Linked DNA regions of Homo sapiens: regions 2, 3 and 4 are each linked to region 1. Evidence: fine-mapped expression QTL. A gene starts in region 1. Each other region holds a variant in brackets. All regions are shown on one strand. Distances are from middle to middle. Region 1 holds the start of PCDH9 (protocadherin 9). Region 2 overlaps LOC105370246 (a long non-coding RNA gene). Region 3 has its middle 750 kb from the start of LINC02342. Region 4 overlaps PCDH9 (protocadherin 9).

What was found. PIP is the estimated chance that this variant, and not a neighbour inherited with it, causes the effect.
Region 2: its variant is the best candidate, but not a certain one, in a credible set for the expression of PCDH9 in nasal epithelium (TOPMed, PIP 0.51).
Region 3: its variant is the best candidate, but not a certain one, in a credible set for the expression of PCDH9 in thyroid (GTEx, PIP 0.51).
Region 4: its variant is the best candidate, but not a certain one, in a credible set for the expression of PCDH9 in prefrontal cortex (BrainSeq, PIP 0.78).

The regions. Positions count from the first base shown.
Region 1 is chr13:67,228,136-67,233,291 of GRCh38, reverse strand. PCDH9 (protocadherin 9) reads left to right here and starts at 2,956. Exons shown (of 5, transcript NM_203487.3): 1 at 2,956-3,512; 2 at 4,717-5,156. The coding sequence starts at 4,852. RefSeq lists a silencer at 2,546-2,685.
Region 2 is chr13:67,253,903-67,259,058 of GRCh38, reverse strand. It overlaps LOC105370246 (a long non-coding RNA gene), which reads left to right. Exons shown (of 3, transcript XR_002957498.1): 3 at 2,183-2,465. Among named protein-coding and RNA genes, the nearest start is that of PCDH9, 26 kb to the right of the region's middle. RefSeq lists an enhancer at 1-671. The variant T/C (reference allele first, on the strand shown) is at 2,158.
Region 3 is chr13:68,130,206-68,135,361 of GRCh38, reverse strand. No RefSeq gene overlaps it. Among named protein-coding and RNA genes, the nearest start is that of LINC02342, 750 kb to the left of the region's middle. The variant A/G (reference allele first, on the strand shown) is at 2,021.
Region 4 is chr13:66,904,965-66,910,120 of GRCh38, reverse strand. All of the region lies in intron 2 of PCDH9 (protocadherin 9), which reads left to right. The region is part of intron 4 of PCDH9-AS2 (PCDH9 antisense RNA 2); the gene reads right to left. Among named protein-coding and RNA genes, the nearest start is that of PCDH9-AS3, 70 kb to the left of the region's middle. The variant G/T (reference allele first, on the strand shown) is at 2,022.

The DNA of each region.
Region 1 (5,156 bases):
AATAGGTGTTCCCTTACAAAAACTGAAATTAAGAATATTTTCCTGATTCATAATTACACAGACCTAACTTAAAAAATTAATATTGGAGAGGTAGATTATGAACAGCTCTCATTATGAAAATGATTTATATAGTGTTTTGGGAAGAAACCTTAAGTTGTGATAACACAGGGTTAGGAATATGACCCTTTATATTTAATTTTCCTCTAGGAATATTAATAAGATCTCTAATAATAGTTCTCATTTTAGAGTTTAGAAGTCGGATTATTATAGGGCAAACCAGCCTCAACTATTCTAGATTTAAGAGGTAAAACTGAGAACATTAAGGAATCTCAGTCGTTCAGATAATGCCAAATAAACACCTAAAGGATATAATGCCCTGAGTCCATAGCTCTATTTGTCTCTGAAACTCCATCTCCTTTGAAAAGAATCTAGACATATTTCATTCTGGGGCTTTGACCTGTGGTTTTCTTTAATTGAAGTCTCATAGTCATTAATTGAATCATGTGATGATTTTTTTTTTCTCTTCTCTAACCTTCATCTTGTGTTCAAACTAAGATTTCATTTATGAGCAGGAGGTAATAATGGGTTCTGCCAACACGTGAAGCTATCCTTAGCAAAGAGAAACAACTCCGTTTAATAATGATGTTAAATAATTATTGCTAAGCTATGTGTTGCGACTACAACATGACTTTGAAATGACTACGGTATGATTAGAATAAGAATATGATATAACTGTGGTGCTTATGAAATGAACTGGAAAGTGGCTGTGCTGCTATGTTTATTGTAAATGTATCACAATGATGGTTCATTTATTTAAAAACAGTGCAGTGCATAAAATAGGTGACAATTGGAACAATGTACTAGCTTTAATTGTAGATTTTGTGAATGGCAAAATGATCGTTTACTGTGGTAAGATAAAAGAATCATCCTTTCATTCACTGACATTATTCTGTGAGGCAATATTTTTCTTTTCACTTTGGGATACTTGTAAGTCCTTTCTATTCTTGAATTTTATATATTCTAATCATACAAAATATTACTATAATAAAAGTTGCTTTGCTATTTAAAAAATATCAGTCTATTATCTGCAAGGAAAGTATTTTATATTTTACATATAAGGGATTAATGGATTTTACAGTGGGCTTTTAGACACTGCAGTTGAACTGTGAATATTAACTCAGAAAAGTTTGAATTAAAAAGAGCTTACAATTTCATGTTGGAAAATTGTGATGTCAAATTAGTTGGTTAAATCATGTCATTATTTATTCAATATATGGCTTAGTAAGCTTGATTGGTGTTTTTTTTTTTTTTTACTTTTCATTTAAACGTCTAAAAACAAATGTTACTTAAAAAAGAAAAAAAGCAAACAAAACTATTGTACTCAAAAACAAGGGGTAATCTCCAACACGCCCTCAGTCAAGAGCTTAAGTATGTCAAGAGCCTTTAATGCCTAGGCAGCCCATTATAGAATGGGGAACACACAGGTTTAAAATAAATGCCCTTTATTCTTCCTGTAAGTTAGACCAAGTTATTCAATCATGTACTAAGACCTTCTCTGACAACCTTTATAGGTCATTCAGAAAATAAATTTTTGTTCCAAGTGAACTGTTCCTATGTTAATGCTTCAAACTTTACTCAGGTATCAGGCGTTAAGTACAAGCCATTACACAAACCTTTGTGGTTTACTGACTTTGAAAGATCAATCAAATATATTACTAGATAGTGCTTTGGGGGTCAGTATTTGAGAAATAAAGCTGTATTTTTTGGGGAGTCATTCCATCCAGTTCCCGTATGAAAACGAGAAACTTGTGAGGATTTAGTACAGAGCTGGAGTCGGAGAAATGAAATGCACGGGAAAAGACGAAAATCACAGGAAAGAAAGTTGGAATCAGCAGAAAGTGCCTAGGGGAAAGGAAGTGTTCCACAGCTTGGGAAACAGCTGCCTGGGACTCCTTCCAGCCCCTCGGAAGCAAAGTTCGCAGTGAGGTGGGCTGGAAGCGGGTTTTGCAGCAGCCGCGAGTCCGGGCTCAGGTTTCCAGGCGCGGCTGGAGCAGAAGTGCAGGGACCGCCACGATCCACCGCCGCGGCCGGTCCCGCTCCGCTAGAGGAGACTTCGCACGCGCAGCCGACTGGCCCGGGCTGACCGAGGGGACCCAGACGCTGCCACTTTCTCTTTCCAAGGCAGTTTCCGTGGCTCTGCATGTAGGAAGTGCTCCGATTAATTTTCTTTCCGGTCTCCGCAGAGATTCCAAATTCTGCGGTCCCCACCTTTCGCTGTACTCCCTCTCCGCCCTTCTTTCCAATGTCCCTGCCAGCAAAAGCCTCTATTTGCAGCACCGGGCATGTTGTCCGTTTAACGCGCTCCGGGGATCTGCTGGCTCGTGCTCCCAACCCAGGGGTGGCTATACGTCTCGCGCCTCTGTTCCTGGGTAGACTCCCCCATCTGTGCATTTTGGCCCCTTCACTTAGCAAAGAGATGTGCGAAGTGTGCGCCTGGAGACGAGCCGCCTCGGTGACCCCCATCCGCCCGCAGCGGTGGCCCTGGTTCCCCGGATCCGCGCCCGCGCCCTGCGGGTCTCCCGCGCCGCCCTTGCCCGCCGGACCACCCGGGCTCAGAGGGTCGCTCGCTTTCAGCGCCTGCGAGCGCCGCTTCCGCCCGGGCCTGGGGAGCGCCAGCGCGTCCCTCCCACGCCGGACCCTGCAGAGCATGCTCAGTGCACCTCATGGAACCCGGCTCTCCTGGGGCCAGGATCAGATTTCCGGGTTTTCGCTGCTGCCGAGGGGGCGCGGAGGAGGGGAGGCTGGGAGACAGTCAGCGCCTTGTTCCGCGCTCCCTCCCTCGCGCCGGGCTGCGGCCGCCCGCGCCGCAAGATGCAGGCCAATCAGAGCCCGGGGGCGGGGCCTGGGCAGTCACGCCCTCCCTCTGGGCTTATTGAGAGTTATATCAAGAAATTCAGTTCAGAGAGAGGAGAGGGAGAAGGAGAGAGGGGCAGAGGGGAAGGGAGAGAGGGAGAGCACGCGAGACGGAAAGGAGCGCCTCAGAGTCTCTGAAGCACGCAAGAGATAACCGATTAGGAATTTTTCGGGCAACTGTCACCCGGATAGCTGTCAGAGAATCATCATCACCGCAACTCTGACGTTTCCTACAAGAAGTTAGAGACTTAAGCAGTATTGGCATCGGATGGAAATGGTATGCATGCTGCTGTGGAAAATATCCCTGAGCTGAAGAAGTGCAACTATGTGTTGTGTGTGCTAAATGCCCAGAAGAACCCAGACCCAGTGGGTAAGAGAGACGAAATGTGGAGAGAATGACTAACGACAAATCCGTGAATTTGTTCTCTGGAGTTGCTAATTTGCCAGCCCGAAGCAACACATTTTACAAGGAGGAAACATTTTGCTGCTTCTGATTTCTCCCCAAACTGGTGCTACCAGATGCATGGCTTTCTATGTGTTGGAACAAATCATTCCTAACTGCAGCATACTGGGAAAGGGGAAAGGTTGAGGCAACTAACGTAAGTGTAAAGTTTCGCATGCACAATTGTAAATTCTGTGTTTAGATGTGTCCTCAGTGTAGGCGAAAGATGCTTGTAATTGGGTAGACGGTTGGGGCAGAGCTCACCTACTCGGCTGTATCTGCATCCCTACCTGCATCACTCTGCCGGAACTAATCGCGGGCATCAGCTACTGTGCAGCCTAATGCAGATAAGATTAGAGCCTGAGAACTGACCAGTCCTACTCAAGTAGGTAGCTGCCTGGAGCCTTGCACCCATTTAAACTGCAGTTATCTAAGCAGAAGCCTTTTTACCTGCATGATTGGGTTGCAGTATTTATGTGTGGCAAATGTTACTAATATTCTAACCAGAGATCAGGATTAAGAAATTGCATTTTTTTTCTCTTTTATGTTCAGTAGAAAATATTGTGATGTTACATGGGAATGTTAGCTGCGTTTCACTTATATCTCGGCACTCTCTTCCACCTCTAGGAAAATGAATCCTATATTATTATACATTTTTAAAAGTTTTAATGTGTTTATGAATCCTAATGAGGATAATTTGTCAATATGGAGAAAGGAGAGCAAGCTGTGGGCAAGAAATCTGAAGTCTTGTTGTTGTGCTTTTAGGCAATGAGGATGTGTAGAGGCCGGTGACTATTGCTTCTGATGCCGCTGCAGCGGCATGTCCGGATGCTCGTTTCCCAGTAAGATTGTATTAGAAGGCAGTTGAAGAACTGGGAGGAAAGAAAAAGATAGCCTTTTTAGAAAAGATAGGTGACTCAGTGGGGCAGAGAAGAAAACACATTTGACATGTGACAAAGCAATTAGCAGGAACCGTAGCTAAATACTTAGTGTTTTTCACTTGCACCTGAAAAGACTGAGGGAGGTAGGTTAGAGGCTAGGAGGAGGGTGAGACAGGGGGAGGGGAAGAGGAGAACAAGAATGCATGTTTTGAATTAAACAGTATTCTGAAAAACAACGTGCGTGAATATAGGTAAAAATAGCAGCTGTCCTTAATTCAAAAGTAGAAAATTTTATTTTCTCCCGGCAAATGCAACCAGCAGGAGATATTTAGTGTTTTTCTCCACAGAGTAAACTTGCAAACAGTGGCAGAGCAAACTGCCATGTTTACTAATGTTCAGGGGAAAATGTGTGGTGATATTTTGTGACGGTGTGTTTTTATTTACTGAAGAATAATATTGTCTATACAATTGTGTTGACAGCGGCTGTCTCCAAATAAGTGATGAGATATAATGCATCCTCCAGTCCATGCACGCTTCCTCTTGCAATTTGTGCATCATTCCTCAGTGGAAACCTTTAAACCCTAAAATCCAGGAAAAGAAAATAAATACATTATCATGGACCTGAGGGATTTTTACCTGTTGGCTGCTCTGATTGCCTGTTTAAGGCTGGATTCCGCAATAGCTCAAGAACTTATTTACACTATTAGAGAGGAATTGCCTGAAAATGTGCCCATAGGAAACATACCAAAGGATCTGAACATTTCTCACATCAATGCTGCCACAGGGACCAGCGCCAGCCTTGTCTACAGACTGGTTTCTAAAGCTGGGGATGCCCCTTTGGTGAAAGTTTCCAGCAGCACTGGGGAAATTTTCACAACCTCCAACAGAATAGACAGAGAAAAACTCTGTGCTGGCGCCTC
Region 2 (5,156 bases), 26 kb before region 1:
TTTCTAAACAACATAGATTTACTGTCATCTCTCCTCTTCCTCTTCCCTTTCTTTTTTTCTTGTGTTCAACACTTGTAGAAGGGGAAAAAATACAACAAGATTGCAAAAGTGATTTATTTTCGCCATATAATAAGAAACCCAGTACTATGGCAGTGGCCTTAAGATGTCTTTGATGCTTCAGGCACCATCTACCTATGGGGCCTGCAATCTTTGAAATGTGACTTTTATCCTCAATTGCAACATGGCATCTGCACTCCTATGCATCACAAAGACATTCCACAAGATAAAAGTGGAAAGGGGAAGTAAAGGGAATGGCAGCTAAATCTGTCTCTTTTAATCCAAGAATACACAGCTCTCCTGGGTGCCTTGCCCAACATTGTTCTACTTACATCTTATTGGCCAGAAATGTGTCATTAGGCCACACCTAGATGGGCAGCAGCTGGGGAAATCAAGTGGTTAGCTGGGAACAACACTAAACCACACAGAACTGGGTTTCAGTTAGTAAAAATGAAAGGCAGAATGAGTAGTTAGGGACAGCCAGCACTGTACAGTATATATCTTCTTTCCTCGACATTCCCATCTCTATTTGTTTAATTTTATGTAGCAAGCTAAAATGACTGGAATATTTAATATTTAGTCCAAATTAGACAAATGGATATAATATTCAAGACAAAAAAAAATCATGGAATTTCATTAATGGTTTTAATTATTGTTACATACATACATACATACATTAATGGTTTTAATCATTGTTATATACATTTGGCAAATCTTTTAAATAAATTATATTGGTGTGCATGGCAGCATTCAGATTGTTATATTTATTTAGCTTTAAATTAGCATTCTGCTTCAATTTATTAAAAGAAAACTGGGATAACTTTTTCTAACTTCCCAGTGAAATATTTTGAATATTATTATATTCCTAACCCAAATGTCCTTATTGTATTTCCCTCAGGCATTTAGCCATTTTGTTACATCTTACAGCAGCAATAATTCTCTATTCCATAAAAAATGGAATTTTACAAGCAGGACAAACGGCTCCATAAATTAACAGGAATACCTGCCTAGCTGAAACAACACATTTCTTTCTTATTCATACTTTTGTGATGTATTTGTCTTGAAATTACACTCTCGTTTTTCTGAAATTTACAGCTTCTTTTTATGGGTTGAAAATCCAGTGAAAAATTGGTTGACACCTAGAATATCAAGAAGAAAGGAATTTATAAGAAAAATGCATATTTCAGATATGAATGTATTCTCAAAACATGTATCTCATCCTAAAATGTTCCTGAATGTATTTAGTAGAGTAAGATTTTTCTCCCAACACACTTGAATAATAGTATGTGTGTAAATTCCCACATAGTTGAGAATCTTTCATTGTGTTTTTAGATGAAATAACCTTATTGATAATATATTCCTTCTATTTAAGAGTGTGTCTACTAGTATTAATCCAGTTCTATACATGACTATTGATGAAGGAAACTAATTTGTAAAAATAATAGCATAGCAATAACAGCTTGTACTTTGCATTTCAGAGAACTTACATATTTTATACAAATTTTTTCTTACATGTTACAAAAGAGACCCTGTATCAGAACAAGTGAGCATTTTCATATTTTTATTTTTCAATTATGCAGTCATTGATGGAGTAAGGAATGGAGCCCAAATGCATTCCATAAGCCAGACACCTCAATAAGTCATGCAAAGACTGAAAATAACGTTTGTAGAAGTATGACTTTCTAACAATTCTTCTCCCCCTTATAAAAGTGCCTATTAAATATCAAGAAAAAGAATAAAAATCCTAACATTACTAAATTACTTCAAAACATATGTGGCTTAAGAATGTTGACTTCAAGATTATGAAATATTTCTTTTAGGATACTCAGAGAAAAATCTCTTGACAAAAGCCTGTATTAATTTATATTTTATAGATGTATAATTAATATCTCTAGACTTGTATAGTTTCTCTGCAAGTGCATCAGACTTCATTCATAAATATGCATTAAGCAACTACTATATGCTGGGATCCATACTTCTTGGAAAAAAGTTTCTCAGTTTATAAACTTTCATAAAGGTTTGTAGGAGGAAAAACTTAAAGCTAAAATTAGTTATGCATTTATCTTATATGACTCTTTAAAACTAAAACACTCAATATTT[T/C]ATTTTTATTTCTATTTCTATTCAGATTAAATACAGAGCAAGGATTGCAGAGAACACTTAGAAAGCCATTCCAGTATTGGAGAATTATGAGTTCTCTACATTCGACAAGTATTACCAAAAGTCTACTGGCAACATCTGGACAATTAAGCAGATACAAGAATAAAAAAGACATATGCTTTGTCCTCAAGCACTTAACATTTAGCAGGCAAAAACATAACTATAGTCCAAATGGGAGGTGAAATTTGTTTCTTACAGGTGCTCAGTGGAAAAGAGAGAAGGAATGTTATCTTTGGGATATCCAAACAGTGTTTTCCATATTTAATCTTCATGACAGACTTGCAAAAGTAGACATTCTTTTTTCCATTTTATTGCTAAATAAATGTGAAGAAATTAAATTTGCAGTCTCTGTCAGCCTGTCTCAGAGATCTTGTGAATCACAGTAATCCCACAACCCCTCTACCCCTCCATGACCTGCATTAATCGTAAAGTATTTGCAAGAAATAGACACTTGGTGGGTTACGTCACTTCAATTTTGGAGCTATCTGTTGCTGTAACACAAGCTAGGATATCCTCAATCAAAGTCTTTCTGAGTAAAAGAGCAATAAACGTAAATGTTTTAGTGAGTATAACAAGAATGTAAAATGGTGACAAATTTATTTTCGCTAGAGTATACCACCTGTGTAGGGTGGTAATGGGAGATTAGATTGTAAAGGGCTGGTTGGGACTGTTACGGAAGTCCTTTAATGCCAGGTAGAAAGCAATTATTCTCAATTTAGTAGGTGTAATTCAGTATTTAAATAGCAGGCTCATTCTGATCACATGAAGATTAATCCCCAGCGAGTAAAGCATAGAATAAAAATGATTTCTAATCTAAAGAATCGATTATACTACATGTTAAAGTTGTTCTCTGTATAAAATAGATATAAACAATCCTTCTCTAAAATGGTTTTGAGATAAGCTAAAAACAAGCATTTTGGAATAATAACAGTTAAATATGTTAGCTATATTTAGTGGAAAACCAATAGAGGGCATTGACATTGTTAATATAATTTTTCTACTAAGTCAGACATAGCAGCTATTTAACTAACAGATACTTGAAACCTTTTTTTGGTGGAGATTTAATTGTTTTCCCTTAAAGTATCGCTAGGGTTATTGTCATTGTTCAAAAAATGCCTTCTCATAGTTTGAATCTCATCAGCAGTGACTGGTTACTATCTGTAGTGTAATATATATTAAAGGTTGGCTATCGCTGAACGTAGAGCCACATATAGGGGTGGATACTGGGCTGGGAGAAACTGATACTACTGCAAGCAATGTGGAGCCTGGAAGTAAAAACAGACAGAAATGGTGTCCAGTAGTTTGTAGCAATCACAAATATCAGTGCAGCCAAAGCGAGTGTCCAAACCACAGTAGAAAATATGGATGAGGGCATTTTGAAACTCACAGAATGATAGTGCGCACTCAGGAAGTCTGAAGAAAGGTAGAAGATCCCTTTACCACACCTCCCCTCCCCGTCTCCATGTGCTAGCATTATTAACAGAATGATAATCTGTGGGTGTTGCAAGAAAAAGAGAAAATAAAGTTTCTTCCAGGTCTATGGAGATGCTTTAAAAGTGACCAGAAGACGACCGTGGAAAGAAGACAGTAGCAGAGCTAGTGAAAGTAGAATGCGATGTAATGTCTAACATGCATTTCCCTCAGCCCTAGCATCTCTCCTGCACAAATAATTGAAATATACATACTGTATCTTTGCAGATTTGAACTTCCCGATATGCTGTACACTATTTGAAGACCTCTGTAATAATACATGATCAAGAAGCATTATTGTTGCCAGGCGTGGTGATTCACAACTATAATCCTGATAGTTTGGGAGGCTAAGGTGGATCACTTGAGTCCAGAAGTTCAAGACCAGCCTGGGCAACACAGCGAGACCTCATCTCTACAAAATATATATAATATATTAGATGGGCTTTGTGGTGCACACCTGTCATCTCAGCTACTTGGGAAGCTAAGGCAGGAGGATCACTTGAGCTCAGGAGTTCAAGGTCACAGTAAGCTATGATTGCACCATTTTACTCCAGCCTGGGTGACAGAGAGAGACCCTGTCTCAACAAACAAACGAACAAACAAACAAAAACATTGTTGTTATTGTTGTAATAGTCTAAATTACAAAGGGTATCCATATTTTTTTGGTACATCTGATTTAGTTTGAAATTAGGAAGATGAGCCATGAAATTGATTTCTTTTTTTGTTTGTTTGTTTCATTTGTACATTTGACTAAATTTGATCCTAATCAAATCAAAAGATATTAATTGATTTTGGAATCAAAATACATTAATCCATTTTCCCAGAATAGCAGATCTTTATTCAAATGCGCTTTGGAATTGCTTTATAATCAACTCCTCTCCTGTAGCTTCATAACATAACCAGGATATTAAAGTTTCTAAAATGTCCCACAGTAACAAAACATCTTTAACTTGATCTGAGTTAAATAAATGTTTATCCTCAGGGGAAGATTTTCTTCATTGTTTCTTTGAAAACTACCTAGTAACATCCCTTTAATAGTAATTTGAGAAGTGCTAGACCAGAATGCTTTAGCTAGTGTTTCTCAGACTTGGCACTATGGACACATTGGGCCTGTGTGTGTTTTATACTGCAGCATAACGAATCAAATTTTGTGACTTTAAACAACACCTGTTTCTTAGCTCATAGCTCAAGATGGTGTGGCCAGGATCTTTGCTCTGGCTTGGACTGCATTCTCCTCTAGTGGTTCAAGGTGCTCTCTGAGCCTATTCCTGTTATGGGCAGAATTCAGTTTTTTGTTGTTGTGAAATTGAAGTCTCTGTTTCCTTGCTGGATGTCAGCCAATGACTTCTCTTGGCTCCTAGAGGCTCCTCTCAGATCCCTGATCAATGGCTCCTTAAATCTCTACAACAACCTTCCTTGTGTTGAATCCCTCCCATGCTCTGATTCTCTCTCATTTCCACTTTGGTGACAAT
Region 3 (5,156 bases), 900 kb before region 1:
TTAATGGAAATTATGATGATAGATATTTAGTTATGCATATCTTCTTCTCGCCAGCCTCTGTGCAAACTGCTTTATAAGCATCATCTCATTTATCTCTCAAAATGACCCTAAGGGATAGGTTCTATTTAATATCCATCTTAAGATAAATTTAAACTAGAGTAGGAGTAATTTGACCATGATCACAAATAATAAGTAGTAGAGCTATGATTTGAATAAATGCCAGTCTGACTAAAAGCTTTCTTTTTCAATTATGTGACTTTTTAAAAAACATCAAATCACCTCTCCCAAGTCACAGAATTAAAAATGTGGCTTTCTAACAGAAGATAACTATTTAAGTCTGTCACTATGTTGTCTTAAACATTTAACTTATGCCATATCACACAAGAATGCAAATCTTCATTTGAATTATTTTGTATTAAGAGAATAATAGTTCCTCCATCATATAAATTTATGTTATAGTATGTCATTGGTATTTTATAACCTCATAATGCAGTAGCCACGATCTCTGTGTCCTTGAAGAAGAAAACGAAAGAAGAATTACATTTCTTAGTAAGCAGTCTAACGTAAAGGAGTGGTGACACACCACCAATGGGGAAAAATTGTCTATTACGCTTACTAAAAGTTTTTCTTCTTAAGTTATAAAACACTTAAGATATCAGCCAACTGTGCAATGAGTATGAATTCTCACTTAATCCACCAGCTCCCCATTTTAAACAGTCTTCTATCTACCTCCTTTGCAGATTCTCTTTTGTGGTCTCTCTGACACATATTTTCACTTTAGCTGAATCTCTCCTGTGACTTTTTTTTTCCTCCTGCACAAACTAACTTTATCTCAACTGTCCTTTAATTAAATCAATAACTGATGTTGTACTTCCCGCTAAAAATATTAACCAACCCCGATGGGCAGCTGAGTATTTGGGGAAAAGAAAGCTTCACCAAGCACAACTGTGGAGCCAAACACATTTTCTTCTTTTTGCTCTTTTACTCCTGTCCTCTTCACTCTCCCTTTTTGTTCATTATTTTTCTTTTTCCCTAATCACTCAGTTAAAAAAAAAAAAAAAGTTTATGGTGAATAATCAGCATCTGAGCATGGCTTTTCAGTTACTGAAAGATCCCGCTGGAAGCCATAGCATATAATCAAACATGCTGCTGCTGACCAGGAGGAGTGACTGCATAATAGCTGCAAGGCTATGGCTCTTGGTCTTTAATTCTTTGGATAAATGCTGCTACAAGGAAGAAAAGTGAGGATACAAACCTCTCTAAACAGGATGCTTTTCTTTTGAAATCTGCAGGGCCCCTATGTCTCCCAGGTTTGAAATTCCTTCTCTAAGCAGGAGTAATGCTTTTTTAAAAAGGTATCTTCTTGTATATTTTAATGGGCCTGATATTGCAGCTCCAAATATTTTTAAAAAAGGAATCTTTGGCAGTTCTTATGGATGCTAAACTGAATAAATGCAGTTTCTACAGTACAAAGTATACAATTATATTTCCATTCTGAGAAACATATGTTACTAATAAAAACTCTTTCACAAAATCAGTGATTTTTTTTTTAAAAAAAGGACTCATTTTCTAATAACAAGAAAAATAACCTGATATGTCAAAAATGGTTTCCATTTGTTGTATTGCAGAACAATTGCTTTTATTTCAGTTTATGACAGAAAATAAAGTATTTCAGTTCTATTTTTGCATTCCATGATGCAATTTTTCATACATAATTTTTATAAGCAATGTATAAGTTCTTAAATTATTTTTTAGAGAAATATTGTACAATAATTTGTTAATCGTGGGAAGGGAAAATTAAACCATCATCACCCATTTACGCTATAATTCGAGCATGAAATGGCAGCATAGTGTTCGGAAAATACTGTAGGCTTGGAACTAGAAATACCTGAAATAAAACTTTACCTTCATTATTTACTAACTGTATCATCCTAGATAAGCTCCTCAGAACTCAGTTTTCTTACTTCTAAATTAGGATAAGAATACAAATATTTTAAAGTATTTGGATGATAATGATTAC[A/G]GATATGTATATATATATGTATATATATATAGCATGACAGATAGCACTTATTCAATACATGATTCCCATTTGTTGACCTTATTATTACATCAAATCATAGTTGCATCCAAGTATACCTTGCCCAGTTGTTTTTAATCATGTCATGATATATATTGTGATTTCATGACAGAGTTCTCTCAGAATATTTTTAAACCAGATTTTTTTGGTAAGATACTGAAATCAATAAATCACCAAGAAACCCCCAGTCTAAGAATAAAGAGAAGCCACTCCGATAAAAGCAATTAAGAATCTGACAAACAAGAGTATGGATCCCCAAAGAACAGTCATCCTGGAAGTTTAGGTCCTAAGGACTTTGTCCCAAATGTATCACTGCTTTGAGCAGATGAACACTGTAAGTACTGGTACAAGCACAACAGAGAAGTTGGCAATCAATCTAAAGTGTTTTGATTTCAAGGGAAATTACTATGGAATGTTTCTGTGGATAAGGATTAAGTTTTAGTAGGCAAAAACTCAGCACATTTCTCTAAAATGTTTCCATAAAGAAAATCCTAAATATCTAATCTTGGGGTTCTCTCCTATACACAATAGGTATAATCCAATATGTAGCCTTTGCGATTGCAGAAAATATTAGATAGAACCTAGATATATACAAAAAAATTATCAGACATTGGATTCAAGTCTCCAAATCACCCATTTTCTTAGCAGTCCTCGATGGGCTGATGTCTTGGTTTACCAGGTGAGTTCTTATTCTCTCCTTTCTCTTATTTTCAAATCATTTATTTATTCATACTGTAATATAAATGGAAAAAGCCCTAATAGACATTTTCTTTGTATTTCAACAGATGAACAAATGGGGACATACTAGTAATTTTTAAGGCATTATTCATTGTGTGTTTATGATTGTGAGTCTGTGTGGGTGAGGGAGTGGATATATTTAAGAACATTAGTGTAGCTTTAAGAATATTAGTGTAGCTCTTCTATCACTCTTGAAACCTTACTATTTCTATTTAAAATTAAACAGCATTAATCATCTTTCATTTTGCATGAATTGCTTCCCAGGATACTATCTTCCCTTAGGAGAATTACAATAAAAGTGAAAAAAAAAAAAAGAAAAAAAAGAAAAGAGGTCATGTAAATCAAGTAAAATACAAAACACAACCCAACAAAACAAAACAAAAAAATATCCAGGGCTCTGTGGCTCACGCCTGTAATCCCAGCACTTTGGGAGGCTGAGGCAGCTAGATCACCTGAGGTCAGCAGTTCAAGACCAGCCCAGCCAACACGGTGAAACCCTGTCTCTACTAAAAATACAAAAAGTTAGGCAGGCATGATGGCAGGAACCTATAATACCATTTACTCAGGAGATTGAGGCAGGAGAATTGCTTGAACCTGGGAGGCAGAGGTTGCAGTGAGCCAAGAACGCGCCATTGTACTCCAGCCTGCGCAACAAGAGTGAAACTCCTGTCAAAAAAAAAAAAAAAAAAGAAAAGAAAAGAAAAAAGAGAACGATCAGATAATTTTATGTGTTTGTGAAATGTCTACATGATGGAAGAAACATTTATCTCTCAAATTATTGGTATATTTGCTTTACTTTTCCACATTCTATTTTTATACATCTCAGTTGCAAACAAATTCATTTTTTAATGCTTCTTCATCAACATAAAGTATCTTCACTACTAAAATCATCATAATGCTGCCAAGAATAAGTACTTCTTATGAGGTTCCTCAGAATTGAATGACATAGTAGCAATCTGTTCCTGATTTGGTTTGGTCTATGTCCCTGCCCAAATCTACGTCGAATTGTAATCCCCAGTGTTGGTGGTGGGGCCTGGTAGGAGGTGATTCAATCATGGGGGCAGATTTCCCTCTGTGACAGTGAGTGAGTTCCCATGAACTCTGGTCATTTAAAAGTGTGTGGCACCTCCCCCACTCTTCCTCCTGCTCCTGCCACTTAAGATGCCTCACTCCCCCTTTGCCTTCCGCCATGATTAAAAGATCCATGAATCCTCCCCAGAAGCAGATGCCTCCATGCTTCCTGTACAGCCTACAGAACTGTGAGCCAATTAACCTTCTCTAATTTTTTTAAATAAATTACCCAGTCTCAGTTATTTCTTTATAGCTATGCGAGAGCTGACTAATACAACTCTATATCTCTTAATTAATGCTTTTTTCTAACAGTCGTCTGCACCTGACTTTTCCTAACACTCTGCTCAAACGTCATATCATTTGAAACCCATCATTATTTACTTTCTTGTTTCTTCCTTTCTCAACTGCTCATCACATCATGATATATAACACACTGAGCCATTTATTGATTTCTTATCATGTTCATGCTTTTTGCTTGGCAATCATCCCGCAGTTTCAAATGCACTCCAACTTAGGGAATTTATATCTTTAAGCAAGGACAAGTGGAAAAAAGAGCAAACCTCAAATATTTTATTTAACCCTATTAGCCCTTTTGGAGATTTTAAAATAAATTACCAAATAATTTCAACTTATTATCTGTCTATCCTTTCCTCCAAATAGCTCCTTAGAAACTATGACAGCATTTTAGACAACGTTTTTAATTTAACCCTAACAATAGCGTTGTAAAAATGTCCATCTTAGGAAGTAGCTAAAGCCCAAGATAGGTGAAATTTAAAAGAAAAATCTACGCAATGTAATAAAACTAGTCAGTATAATGCTGTGTTTCAAGAACATAATTTCTCATTTCATGTAAAGGACATTTTTACACTATTAGATTTTTAACATCTATTTATTAACATTTTCTTAAGTACATATACAAAGTTTCTGAAGCCAAAAACATTATCATTATTATTATTTATAGCAAATAATATCTACATGTTTCTTCTATGCCCCAATTTTTACCACTGGAGTAACACAATGAAAACCAGATGTCACTCTACATACACAGCATCTGTATTGTAGGTGAAGCACCACACACACAAAAAAAAAACTGGACATTTTTTCAGGAAATAGAGGCAGCTGTCCCCCATTCCCTTCAGAGAGAATCATTTTGAAAATGTAAATATTAGAATCCTGGGTCGTCAATAAGACTACTGTCTCCAACTTCACAGACCAGGCAATGTTTCCTGGTCCCAGATCACACCCTGCTTTGAAATTTAAACCCATACCT
Region 4 (5,156 bases), 320 kb after region 1:
GACTTTTCCTACCTTTGAGACATCAAGAAGGAAGACAAAAGGGTATCTCTAGGTGGAAAGATCTGGAATGGGAATTGTGAGGACAGAAGAGGACTTACATAGAGGAATTGATGAGCATTATCTGTAGGGTCAAGAGAGTATTGAAGGGTGTCAGTCAACTTGCAGTGGGGTTGAAGAAGCTCTGCTGCCCCTAGAAGAACTGAAAAGGTGAACTTTGCAAAATCCACTGGGTAGGAACATGTGTCAGGGTCCCGAAGTTGAACATAAGCTTATTTGTTTGTGCAATGGATAAATTCAAGTTTACCTAGTTAGTTAATATATTACTGTGACAAAGTTACTCCTTGTCATGAACTGCCAAGAGTTCAGTTGGAGGAAGAAAGCATGATGACTAAGCCAAATGCTCAGCGCACTGCAAGCTCCGCCTCCCAGGTTCACGCCATTCTCCTGCCTCAGCCTCCCTAGTAGCTGGGACTACAGGCGCCCGCCACCACGCCCGGCTAATTTTTTGTATTTTCAGTAGAGATGGGGTTTCACCATGTTAGCCAGGATGGTCTCCATCTCCTGACCTCGTGATCCGCCTGCCTGGGCCTCCCAAAGTGCTGGGATTACAGGCGTGAGCCACTGTGCCTGGCCTCTAAATGGATTTTCAACATGTGTTTTTTTAAAAGGATATGTTTTTTTTTTTGTAATTCTGTGAAAAAGGATGCTGGCATTTTGATAGGGATTGCACTGAATCCATAGATTGCTTTGGGCGGTATAGTCATTTTAACAACATTAATCCTTCCAATCTATGAACATGGGATATTTTTCCATTTGTGCAATCTATGATTTTTTTTAATCAGGGTTTTGTAGTTTTTCTTGTAAAGATCTTTCAACTCCTTGGTAAAATATATTCATAAGTCTTTTTTGTAGTTATTGTAAGTGGGATTAACTTCTTGTTTTGGTGCTTGACTAATATTTATTGTTGTGTAGAAATGCTACTGATTTTTGTGCATTGATTTATGTCTCAAAGTTTTAAAGAAAAAAATTTAAAGAAGAGACTCAAAAAAGCAATTAAAAAAAAACAGACTCTGTATACTATAGATACAGGTAACATTTCCTTCATATCATTTTAGGGTCTGCCTATTTTTCTTATTTCACATAAGCAATCCCTGTTTTTAAATTAATGTGTATTATAGCCATCTACAATTCTATGATATGATTGCATTTATATAACATTTGGTTTTAAAATTTATCATACGACATTTTCATTTTAAATCAAAATATGTGTCACTGCACCTGAACACTGATTTGTTCAATAAAGTTTGATGAGCATTTTAGCTCCATTTTCTAGTTATGATTAAAGATAACAAAAATAAGCAAAAAAAGAAGGTACATAGAAAACATTAAAGAAAAGGCTGTGAGTATAGGCTCAAGGTTTCCTTATTTGGGCCAGAATAAATTTCAGGATACTAAATGATCAGAACAAATTTTCAGAAATAATAAGAATCTATACTGTTGGTCACTTAAAATATAAATTTTATTAGTTTCTAGATGTAAGTATAAAGATATGTGCTTTGATGAAATAATGATTGGGGGTGTTCTAAGAGATCTTTTCTTATCTTATGAATAGAAGATTGTTCCTGTGTCTGAGAAAATATTTTGGAAACAGAACCTGTTCAATATGGGTGTAATTGCTTAAACAGACTCCACTGAAGAAAACACTTTCTGAGGAAGTACTCAGTTTTATCCTCTCTAGTCCTTTCAGTTTTGACAACAACACGAACAGTTAAATGATTCCAGAGAGAGAGCAGGAGAAGAAAGAAAGCCATGAGTGTATAGCATCCTTGAAGGCCAGTACATAAATGAAACAAGAAGAGGTAGTACTTAGTTGTGTTGCATTAGATAAGAACTGAGAACTGCCATTTGCATTAGTAACGTGAAAACCATAGGTGATGGTAGCAGGGCCATTTCAGTGGAATGGGCGTGCTTGAAACCTAATACATGTGGATCTCTAAAGAAATGCATAGAGAGAAGTTGAA[G/T]ATACCAAGTTTAGACAATTATTTAAAGTAGATTCATTTCTGCAAACATAAATTTCTTTGGAATTATTAAACAAATGTTCTGTTTTAGAATTCTTCATGAAAAGGATCCTTAGTTTTTTAAAATGGGTAGGAATAACGTTTTCAGTGGGAGTTTTTAAATAAATGGAATTGTTATTTAATGAAACCTATAGCACAAAAGTACAAAACTATTGCCTCTATAATGACTGCAAAACTTCTATGAAAGTGCTATTGATTTTTAGTAAACAATCTTGATTTTGTAAGAAGGTAGGAGTAGTAATAGAATAATAAATAATACTAAGCATTGCTACTGCATTACCATTGAGTTGAAAATGTAAAGAACCCCCTATTTAGCAAAGAAAACAGCTGTGTTTTTCATAAAAAGATCTTCCATAAAACTTTTGTTGTTCTTGCTACTGTTGATTATTTTTCTCTTAATATGGCTAGAAGTGCTTTTTTGAAAATTTATTTCAAAAATGAAAGAGTAAAAATACCTGATTATGTGAAAACTTTGAGCAGATATGTCTATAGGTAGTGAATGATAATTTTCCCAGGAACTACAATGGATGTTTTGGAGTGGCATGATTTATCCACATATTGCAATACAGACTTTCAATCATAGGTGATGAAAAATAGCAAACTGGTCTTAAAGTATAAAACAAATGTACTTTCAGTGATTTTCATTGAATATGATTGTTGTTATTGAGCTTTAGACTTCTCAAGTTTGATTTACATATGTACCCCCCAATATAAATCTGATTTAGCAAATGCATCTTACCCATAATTCAATACGCAGTTATTTATATTAAATTGGGCAAACAGTAAAATTTTTTGGTGGGATGAACCTTGAGAGTTTTTTATTTTATTTTTTTCTTTTTGAGGCAGAATCTCGTTCTGTCGCCCAGGCTGGAGTGCAGTGGTGCAGTCTCAGCTCACTGCAACCTCCAGCTCTCGAGCTCAAGCTATTCTCGTGCCTCAGACTCCCAAGTAGCTGGGATTACAGGCATGCACCACCACATCCAGCTAATTTTTATATTTTCAGTAGACGGGGTTTTGCCATGTTGACCAGGCTGGTCTCAAACTCCTGACCACAGGTGATCCGCCCACCTCGGCCTCCCAAAGTGCTGGGATTACAGGCGTGAGCCACTGCGCCCAGCCGAGACTTTTAAAATAAATCTTTTTTTAGAAAATGCTGCAACTCTCCCGGAAGTAGAAATTTGTTAGGGAGGATTCATAGTGATTAAATTTTTTCCTGTAAGAATTTTTTTTCTTAAAAGTTTGGGTATTTATAATAGTTAATCTCAAAATATTGTTTACAGTGTTACTTTTTTCTTTTATTTTGCTCTGAGTTATATATTAATTTGCAGAAGAAATTTACCTCAAAAGACTCAATTTTAAAAAGTAAGGAAAGAACAGTAAGTTAGAAATTTTCCTTTCATGCCATTCACTGTTCCAAAAACAGGAGCTGCTCCAGAATGAAACACAGGAGAGGCTTGGGGGTGAGATCTTTTAGGGATGGAAGGACTTAACTGGGCATCACAATGATATTCCAAATGCGCTCATTTTGTTATGTTGCATATTTTCTTGGAAAAGTTGGAAGAAAAAGAATGACCTTTAAAGCTCACTCTTGGCACTGTTGGCCCTTATATTAAGTCCAATTCTATAACTTCTCACTATATGTTGTGCTATTGAATTAATGCACTGATAGTTTCTGTCTGTTCTGAAATCAATCCTCACATTCTTCATGTTTGAACTATTATCAAATTACTCATGGCTCATGAGAATTCATGTTTTCTCACCTTTGCATATGCAGTTCCTTCTGTCTCAAATGTGTGCTAACCATGATTCCCTCATCAGTCCACCTCTCGAGACTCTCTATTCATGTATCAAATCTGGGAGTCTATGCATGCTCTTCTCTGTCCCTTAGCAGTCTGCATACATTTTCAGGTGGCATGTTCACTCATCATGGTGGTTATTTATTTTCATGTATTGTTTCAGGGCTAGAGTGAGAGTATTACAGATATTAAATGCCATATCTTGATGATCCAGTACAATTCTGACACATAACATGCACTCAGTAAAAGTCTGATTATCAAACAAACAAACAGAATAAAATGAGTGAATGAATGAGTTATAGATGAACCCATTAAGGGAGATATGGTACAGTAGAAATTGCCCAAAATAGAGTGAACACTTGTCCTGCTTTTACAGGGCAAATCCTTCAGCAAATGGCACTGAATATACCTGAACCTGTGTCTTCCTAATCTGTTATAGGATGGATTATGTTTTCTACCAGTCTACAGAGGTTCCTTGTAGATAATACATAAGTTCTTGTATTTAAAGCATAAAGTATTATACAAATATAGGATTTTTTTTTCAGGTTCAGACACTTTTATGATATATCCATGGGGGAAAAAAACAATATGATGGGTTAAATTTTAAAAAGGAAGAAAAAATTCTATGGAGCAAGATATCAGATTGAAATCGGAGTGAGGCCAAAATTTACTCTAGCTTCCTGAGGGCTAGACAAGGAAGTTTTAACCTTAACCCAAGGATTCTAAACTCTGGCTACACATTAGAATTGTCTGAATATTTTAAAAATATTTATGTCTGAGCTTCAATTTAACTGATGTGAGGTGGGACTCAGTCATTGACATTTTTAAAAATCTCCCCAGGTGATTCTAATATACAGTCAGGGTGAGACTCACTGCTGGGCCAGAGAAATTTAGGAAATGTTTCTTAGGAGAAAAACTATATGATACATGAAACCTTTTAAAAAGATTAATCAGCATGAATAGATATGTGGAGAGGCTAGGGATAGGAATTGAATAATTAAAATGTCTATGGACATCACAGATGAAAATAACTGTTTTAAGGTCTATGCTTTTTTTTTTCTTGAATGCCAAAAAAGCTGCTGTGAAGCCTTTGTTGCTAACAGTGAATTTGTTCAGACAAAAAACTTAGGAACATTCAAATAATTAACATTACAAGGGAACATTTTACAAATTACACATGAAAGTTACTTAGAAACAGAGGTTAAAATGGCAATCACCATTTGTTGAATGACGCATGAAAAGAGTTGCTAGAGGAGGTAAGTTTTGAATAGAGTTAAAATTA